Linked DNA regions of Homo sapiens: regions 2 and 3 are each linked to region 1. The links come from fine-mapping of genetic effects on gene expression. A gene starts in region 1. Each other region holds a variant in brackets. All regions are shown on one strand. Distances are from middle to middle.

Region 1 (2,760 bases):
ATGTTACATTTTAAAAGGTATATAATCAATGACCTATGATTCCACCTTAAGATGTTAGAAAAAAACAGCAAAGTGAATATACAAAGTTAGTAAAGTGAAGGGAATAATAAACAGAATGAAATAAAAACAAACAATAGAAAAAACAATATATTTAGCACAAGCCACTTCCTACTGCAACGATCCAAGTAAAAAAATCTCCAAATCCCACACTATTTGATATATACCTCCATAAAACAAAGGGGCTTGGGCTCCAACCATTCTTTTGAGCTCTTGAGCTTGGGAAGTGTGCCAGTTACCAGATCATCACTGTCTACATTTTTCATTGTGGTCACAAATAACAATGCCCCTGGAAAAACTAAAAATCATCTTATTTAGTATTGAACATTTCACAGTCATCTGATTTTCTCTTCTGTTTAATACCACCTGTGTCCTTGCACACACGCAAAATGGATTTTGAACACTAACCATCCAGTTTCCCTAACAAGAGGCCTTCACTACAGACTCCAGATGACGGCTTCAGAGCCAGCCTCCTTTATAAGCAGGCGAGATGCTCTTTGAAAGAATCCCCCGTCCCTTGGAATGGATTCCCACGTCCCCCTCCAAGGCAGCCCATTCCAGCCAGTGTGGCAGCTTCAGCCTGGCCTCTCGGAGTCCCATTTGCAACACTTTTCTGACTTTGGTGGCCTCGAGTGGGAAGAACTGCAACTTTCTGGCCACAGAAACACAGGCTGAGCTGCTTAGAGAAGGCAGGGAGGGGCTTTCGGTCATACTGCGCGAGTCTTCGAGCTCTGAGCGGCTCGAAGTCCTCCCCGAGGCACGGGTGCGACGGGGATGTCGTAGGCGTCCGCACCCGCTCTCGCTCATCGCGCCCACTCCCGGCCCTTCCTCCCACCCACTAGGCCGGGCGCCTGCGGCCTCCACGCCAGCCCCGGGCCGGGGGCCTCCCGCGCAGGCGCGTCGTGCGCGGGGACCGCCCGGCCTGGCGGGGAGGTCGCCGGCCGCGACAGGCACCTCTCTGCCCTCCCAAGGCCAGCAGGCCCGCGGCCGTCCTGCTACACACTCGGGCCCGGCCCGACGACCCCGGAGCCGTCCGACTGCGGCTGGAAGGGAGCCCGCCCGCGTCTGCGGAACGCGCGAATGTTGGCGCCCACCGTCTCCCGGACGCAGCGCCGCGCGAGCACTCCGCCCCCTGCGCCGCGGGTTCCACAGCGAGTCCGCGCGGGCGGTGCCGGGGCGGCGGAGGACGGCTTCAGGCCCAAAGGGGATTGGGCGGCGGCTCTAGGTGGCGGGTCTTGGTTTGCGGAAGGGGCTGGAGTCGCTGCTTCTCGGTGACCGGCGCGTGGCCCGGCCAATCCTGCCGCCGCCACCCACCCGCAACCGCGTCCGTTGACGGTCGGGTCCTTGGTCGCCGGGTCCTTGCGGGCACCACAGAGCGGGGTGGCGTCCGCTCCCTCGAGTCCTCGGTGCCAGGGAATTCACCGCTCACCACCCCCTGCCCCGCCTTGGGTCCTGCTCGGGGACCAAACCACTGGAAGGCAGTGGCGGGAAACGGGCGCCTGTGCCGGAGGTCCTGATGAGGGGGGTCCAAGGCTTGGGGACTTGTGCGGGAAATGTGGGTTTAAGTGCCTTCAAGGTGTTTTTAGTCCATTGGGATGTTGATCAGCGTTCATAGCTGGCGCTGATGCAGGTCACCGGGAAGGGAATGTGTGGGTTTATGGCCACGCATAATCTCTTTTAGTCGTGTTTAACTTAGCAGGGTAGCTCTCCATCCTGGCTGGGTTTTGTTTTTTGTTTTTATTTTTTATTTTACAGAGTTTTTCTCAGTGTGTAATGTTTGTTTTTAAATCGCAGATAATCCTGATGTAAACCATTGACATAGCCAGAAAATCACCAGGCTGTGATTTTCCAAACTCAGCTTCATAACCTATTCTGTGTGAGCTGTGATTTTTCTATGATTCTGTTTTCCTCTTTGGGTACTGGTGGGCCCTGAATGATGGACCACCGTTTTCACCCTGTACCTTTTCAAAGTACACTTGCTGATCTTAGAACTGTCTGCAGTGTCTTAAGGACATTTGTATTCACATGCCTTTTAAAAGCTAGCCAGAGTCAATGGCTTCAACTGCACTTTCCCTTTCAGAGTTGAGGGAACATGAGCCATTTGCAGAGCTTATTGTTAGACACCCTCTTGGGAACCAAGCATGTGGACAGTGCAGCCCTCATCAAAATCCAGGAGCGGAGCTTGTGTGTAGCATCACCAGGTTTCAATGTAAGAAAAAACAAGTTTGGACCTAAGACTTGATTTACTTATTATTTCTATTCTTCCAAAAAATGAAGCAGACATGACTTTTTTTTTTTTTTGAGACGGAATTTCACTCTTGTTGCTTAGCCTGGGATGCAATGGCATGATCTCAGCTCACTGCAACCTCCGCCTCTCAAGCGATTCTTGAGCCTTAGCCTCCCGAGTAGCTGGGATTACAGGAGTGCGCTACCAGGCCCGGCTAATTTTTGTATTTTTAGTAGAGATGGTGTTTTACCATGTTGGTCAGGCTAGTCTCAAACTCCTAACCTCAGGTGATCCACCTGCCTCGGCCTCCCAAAGTGCTGGGATTACAGGCATGAGCCACCGTGCCCAGCCCAGACATGACTTTTAAATGAACTTTTTCTGTAAAGAGCTACATAAATATTTTAGGTTTCTAGGCTTAGTCTTTTTACTGTTGATATAAAGGAATACCTGAAGCTGGGTAATTTATAAAGAAAAGA
Region 2 (2,760 bases), 670 kb after region 1:
TGGTTGCATTAATTTGCTAGGGCTGCCATAACAAAATACCAAAGGCTGGGTGGTTTAAACAATGGGAATTTATTTTCTCACAGTTCTGGAGGCCAGAAGTCCAAGATCAAAGTGTCAGCAGGTTTGGTTTCTTCTGGGGCCTCTTCTCCTTGGCTTGCAGGTGGCCGCTTTCTCACGAAGTCCTCACACAGTCTTTCCTCTTTGCATGCACATTCCTGTGTCCCTCTGTGTGTCTTCTTTTTATAAACACACCAATCAGGTTTCACCTTAATCACCCCTTTAAAGGCCCTATGTCCAAATACAGCCACATTCTGAGGGATTGGGAATTAGGGCTTCAGCATGTGAATTTTGGGGAGACACAATTCAGTGCCTAACTGTGGCTGACTAACAAATGAACCACATGGCAGAATTTACAAAATCAGGAGACTCTACTCGGGAGGCTGAGGCAGGAGAATCTTTTGAACCTGGGAGGCAGAGGTTGCAGTGAGCCGAGATGGTGCCACTGCACTCCAGCCTTGGTGACAGATGGAGACTCGGTCTCAAAAAAAAAAAAAAAAAAAAAAAATCAGGAGACCATCCCTCAGCTGACGCTTCTCTTCATCACTCAATGGCAAACTTGTCTGCCTGTCCTCAGGGAAACTTCTTAGAGCAGAAAGGCAAATAAAATTCACAAACCAAAATATCTTACATTAACTGGATTTCCACTTATTTATTTGCTTTTTAACAAAGACCTTCACTAACAACAGACCAAACCAATGTTGATAACAACAGTAATGATAAACCAACCAAATCTAGCAAAACTATTTCAACTTAAAATAGGTTAAAGTTGAAGAACATATTTTAGGCACGAGGTGTAACTCTGAATCATAATACACGGTATTTATAAAATATATTTTCAGGTAACCTTTTTACAGAGCTTTACTAATCAGTCACAAGAGGTCAAGGATTATGGAAGTGGGACAATTTTATGGGTGGGCCAAGATTTTGTTATTGATAATGTCAGCAACTAAAGACAACAGCTCTACCAGAAGGAGCCAGGCCTGAGAAGAGGCCACATTCAAGAGACATCAAAGGGTGATCTTATTTAATTCACAATAAATTTGTCTTCAGAGATGACAAACTGATTGCACAGAGGCTGCAGATGCGAGAGAAATAAATGCCCCCCCCCCAACCCACTGTTCCTGTTTCTACGAGTTGTCAAATTCAGCTGACAGCCCTTAGCCCTCTTTAATGGAAAGGCGCCACGGAATTCCATGCCAAGTGCCAAGGGGTAGACAACCTGGCTGTTTAATCTGCATTCTACACTTGGCACCTGGCATAGTGTCTGGTGGGCAGGAGGCACCGAGGAATATTTGTTGTACAAAATT[T/A]AAAAAAAAATCATTGAGGAAGAGATCTGGGCAAGGCGGGGAGAGATTGCAGAAAAAAACGCAAGAACAGAGGAATAGCAAAAAACAGGAACTACAAGCAGAGTGCTTAGCAGTCACGAGAGACTGTGCAAATGAAATAACGAAATCATTATTCAGTCCTCTGATATGATTATACAAGGAGACAGAAAAAGCTGACGAAATAACTGCTTTAAAATGTATAATCTTCATCTTGTAAAAATAAAACCGGGATTTTGTAAAGAATGTATATCAAAGTTATACAAAAACATCAAGACTATACAATTTATAGACAGATTTAAATGGAGTCTGCCTGGGGGTTTAAATAAAATCCATCCTACTAAGCATAAAAATAAAATTCGTTTTAAAACAATTACTCTGTGAAATAAAGAATAAACATACTCGTTTAATCTTTAACTAAGCTCATCCTACAATATAATCCACTAAGTCCCCTCACTATGGGACTGGAATGGGACACAGGACGTGACAGGAGGGGAGGGGAGGTGACAGGCTGAGTTCTGAGGCAAGGCTGTGTCCAGATCTCAAGGGGCCGGGGCGGGAGGGTCAGGGGCCCAGCTTTCTCCTCGGGCAAGGAGAGCCAATTGAGGTCTTAAAGGAAGAACTGACTCAATCGAATGTGTATTTCAAAAGATGACCCACAGGTTAAAAGTCCCTAATGAAAAAAGTAGCCATCAGCTGACACAAATACAACACAATTAGGCTAGGCTCTTCAAAGCAGACCTGGCCTCCTCATTTGCTGTTTTAATGGGCATTTAGTCAGCAAGCGGACCTTGGGTCCCGGGTGTAAGGCTCACTGCCCTGGTTTCAAACGCTGTAAAATCCCCTGGACACAGAAAGTCTCCTCAAATGCAGTTCTAAAACCTCCTCCCCATTTTTAAAGGGTAAATGCAGGTTAAATAAAAAGTGCTAGAGTTTGCCCATTGTAAGTTACCAGTGAGCCCGAATTTTCTTCTAAAAAAAAAATACAAAACAAAATACCAAGTCCCTCTTATTTTATGATCTTGCTTTTTCTAAATATTCATATAAGGTGACCTTTTCAAAGCACGGCTTGGAACTGAAAACATGCTGATAATAAATCGTGTTTCTCTGGCTTAATTGAAGCCCTGCCTTAGCCCGGAGTCAGGGCCGCTGCCGTCCATTTCTCAGGGTGCCCAGAGAAGCAGAGCTCAGTGGGCATCCTGGGGCTGCCAGAACCCAGCAGGGGCTCCGGCTCCAGGGGAAAGGTCCCCCCACTGCACTCCCAGCAAGGTTGTTCCTTCAAGGTGAGCTCTTTCCCCAGAATTCCCATGTGGCAGGAAGGAAAATGCTGCACCCACACTTCTATTTTCAATCGCATTTCTGAAAAGCCTCAATGTGG
Region 3 (2,760 bases), 61 kb after region 1:
ACAAGAGATCTGTGTTCTGTCATCAGGAAAGGCTACTACATGCATCACACAAAATGCACAACCTGAAATGCTTCAATCTGCAACCGAAGTTTCCTCAAGCAAGAATTCGCATGAACACTGACGAACACATACAGAGCAACTTGGGCAGAGAGAATGGATGATGCCATGAGGCAGTGAGGTTAGCACACTGATCAAGAGCCCCAAAAGCAGGAGCCGTCCCAGTGGCAGAGCAGGCTAGGAGGGTGAGCAGCAGCCATCTCCAGCCACCTTGAGTTCCTTCCTGCCTTCACTCTAAGTTGAGCAGCTCCACGTCAAAGATGAGGGTGGCATTGGGAGGGATGACACCGGGGTGGCCCGTGGCTCCATATGCCACATCAGGGGTGCAGGTCAGCTTCGCCCTCTGCCCCAAGCTCATCTAGCAGGGATGGGGGCAGATGGGGAGAGGAGAAAGAGGACCCAGCTTGATTTAAAAGAAAAAAGTTAGATGACTATGGCATTTTCCCAAACCATCCTCAATGTTAACTCTGAAGATCTCAGATGAATTTTACATGGGATACATTGAAATCGTGCTAACAGCTTTAACAAACGCAGATTCTGCCTCAGCAGAGATGTGACTGTGGGGCAGTAACCCTCACAGAGTGGTCTCAAATTCATGCATCTGACAAACATTACTGGTTATTCAATTTGTGTATGACTGAAACACTTCCATTTGTTCATAGTTCACCCTCTTCCAAAGAATAGGCCTCTTTAGGAAAAGAGGGTGTATGAATAGCACACGTAAATACTCAAGTAGGTGACAGGGGCAGTTATTTAAAGTGGTTTAGAGACTAGAGTCACCAGCAAGGTGGCAAGGGGGACCTATTGTGGCCAACCGTGGTGGCTCACACCTGTAATCCCAGCACTTTTGGGAAGCCAAGGTGGGCAGATCACTTGAGTCCAGAAGTTCAAGACCAGCCTGGCTAATATGGCAAAACCCTGTCTCTACTAAAAAATACAAAAAGTCCGGGCGTGGTGGCTCACACCTGTAATCTCAGCACTTTGGGAGGCCGAGGCAGGTGGATCACCTGAGGTCAGGAGTTCGAGAGCAGCCTGGCAAACATGGTGAGACCCCGTCTGTACTAAAAATACAAAAATTAGCCAGGCGTGATGGTGATGGTGCACACCTGTAATCTCAGCTACTCGGGAGGCTGGGGCAGGAAAATTGCTTGAACCTGGGAGGAGGAGGTTGCAGTGAGCTGAGATTGTGCCACTGCACTCTAGCCTGGGCAACAGAGTGAGACTACGTCTCAAAATAAATAAATAAATAAAAAACAAAAAACAGGCCGGGCACGGTGGCTCGCACCACTTTGGGAGGCTGAGGCGGGCAGATCACGAGGTCAGGAGACCGAGACCATCTTGGCTAACAACGGTGAAACCCCGTCTCTACTAAAAATACAAAAAAATTAG[CCGGCCGTGGTG/G]GCGGGCGCCTGTAGTCCCAGCTACTAGGGAGGCTGAGGCAGAAGAATGGCGTGAACCCAGGACGCGGAGCTTGCAGTGAGCCAAGATTGCGCCACTGCAGTCCAGCCTTGGTGACAGAGTGATACTCTTTCTAAAAAAAAACACCAAAAACAAGACCTATCGTAAGGGAGCATCATAGGACTTCACAGACAGACCAAGAAAGAACAGCTTGAACCAGGGCTCATCACAGCAGTTGTTGAGAACCCACTCAGCATTAGTGGGACAATTGGTGAAATTTAAATCTACTTTTGAATTTTGAATAATCAAAAATTTGAATAAGTAAGTAATTTGTATCAGTGTGAATGTCCTGGTTTTGATAATTGTACTATGGTTATGCAAGAAGGGGAAGCTGGATAGAATATAGAAGAACTCTGTACTATTTCTTTAATATTTTTGTAATTCTGAAATTCTTTTCAAAAAAGCGAAAAAACGAAAAATTTTCTTGGCCTACTCCACCCCAACTCTTCCACTACCTCAGTCCCAGGCAACTGGTAGACCTCAGCTAGTTTATTTTTTTGTTTTGTTTTTTTGAGACAGTCTCACTCCATCGCCTGGGCTGGAGTACAGTGGCACAATCTCTGCTCACTGCAACCTTCACCTCCCCGGTTCAAGTAATTCTCCTGTCGCAGCCTCCCAAGTAGCTGGGATTACAGGCATGCACCACCACGCCTGTATTTTCAGCAGGGACGGGGTTACACCATGTTGGTGAGGCTAGTCTTGAACTCCTGGCCTCAACTGATCCACCCCATTCGGCCTCCCAAAGTGCTGGGATTACAGGTGTGAGCCACCGTGCCTGGCTCTCTCAGCTAGTTCTGAGCAAGCCTAGGGGGATGTGCTTGGGATGAGAGCCCCCAGGGACACAAAAGAGGTATGCTGGCAAGGAGAGGGGTGGGGACGCAAAGCCAGGAGGGGACACCAGATGGCGTTGCCATGCCCTGGCTGTAGAGTCAAAGCAGTAGTGGTCTGTGAGTGGGTGAAGGTGGAGGTGGAGGGCAGAGTGCTGATCCCAGATCCCCAACTCCCCAGATCCCCTTTAATGCGAATCCTCATCCTACCTGGGCTGCACCCTCTTCAAAACCTTTGATGACTTCCTGTTTGCCAATTCTGAACTTGAAAGGTTTGTTTCTGTCTCTGGATGAATCAAACTTCTTCCCATTTTGGAGCATTCCTGTCAAAGCAAGAATCGGGTGCAATAGAGCTGTGGTCATGAGTAAACTCCCAATTCAGATTCCACATGTCTAAAATGGAATGCCTTTTCTGCAC

Which allele goes with the higher level. Alleles are on the strand shown, and positions count from the first base shown. SD is a standard deviation of normalised expression in the study named. Not every link is listed here.
For the expression in cerebellar hemisphere of the gene that starts at base 1,216 in region 1, G is the low allele of the variant in region 3 and CCGGCCGTGGTG is the other (moderate effect, 0.67 SD a copy in GTEx).

What was found. PIP is the estimated chance that this variant, and not a neighbour inherited with it, causes the effect. A credible set is the group of variants that fine-mapping cannot tell apart.
Region 2: its variant is the best candidate, but not a certain one, in a credible set for the expression of FAM228B in whole blood (INTERVAL, PIP 0.53).
Region 3: its variant is the best candidate, but not a certain one, in a credible set for the expression of FAM228B in cerebellar hemisphere (GTEx, PIP 0.59).

What each region holds. Positions count from the first base shown.
Region 1 is chr2:24,121,925-24,124,684 of GRCh38, reverse strand. FAM228B (family with sequence similarity 228 member B) reads right to left here and starts at 1,216. Exons shown (of 11, transcript NM_001145710.2): 1 at 1,152-1,216; 2 at 225-355. The coding sequence starts at 323. It overlaps PFN4 (profilin family member 4), which reads left to right and starts at 1,351. Exons shown (of 5, transcript NM_199346.3): 1 at 1,351-1,567; 2 at 2,138-2,266. The coding sequence starts at 2,150. RefSeq lists an enhancer at 465-714 and a silencer at 785-1,284.
Region 2 is chr2:23,453,411-23,456,170 of GRCh38, reverse strand. The region is part of intron 1 of KLHL29 (kelch like family member 29); the gene reads right to left. The region is part of intron 1 of LOC124907741 (a long non-coding RNA gene); the gene reads left to right. Among named protein-coding and RNA genes, the nearest start is that of LINC02923, 67 kb to the right of the region's middle. RefSeq lists enhancers at 2,138-2,637, 2,638-2,760. The variant T/A (reference allele first, on the strand shown) is at 1,368.
Region 3 is chr2:24,060,719-24,063,478 of GRCh38, reverse strand. It overlaps FKBP1B (FKBP prolyl isomerase 1B), which reads right to left. Exons shown (of 4, transcript NM_004116.5): 3 at 2,553-2,665; 4 at 1-415. The coding sequence ends at 287. Among named protein-coding and RNA genes, the nearest start is that of FKBP1B, 12 kb to the right of the region's middle. RefSeq lists an enhancer at 2,402-2,541. The variant CCGGCCGTGGTG/G (reference allele first, on the strand shown) is at 1,447.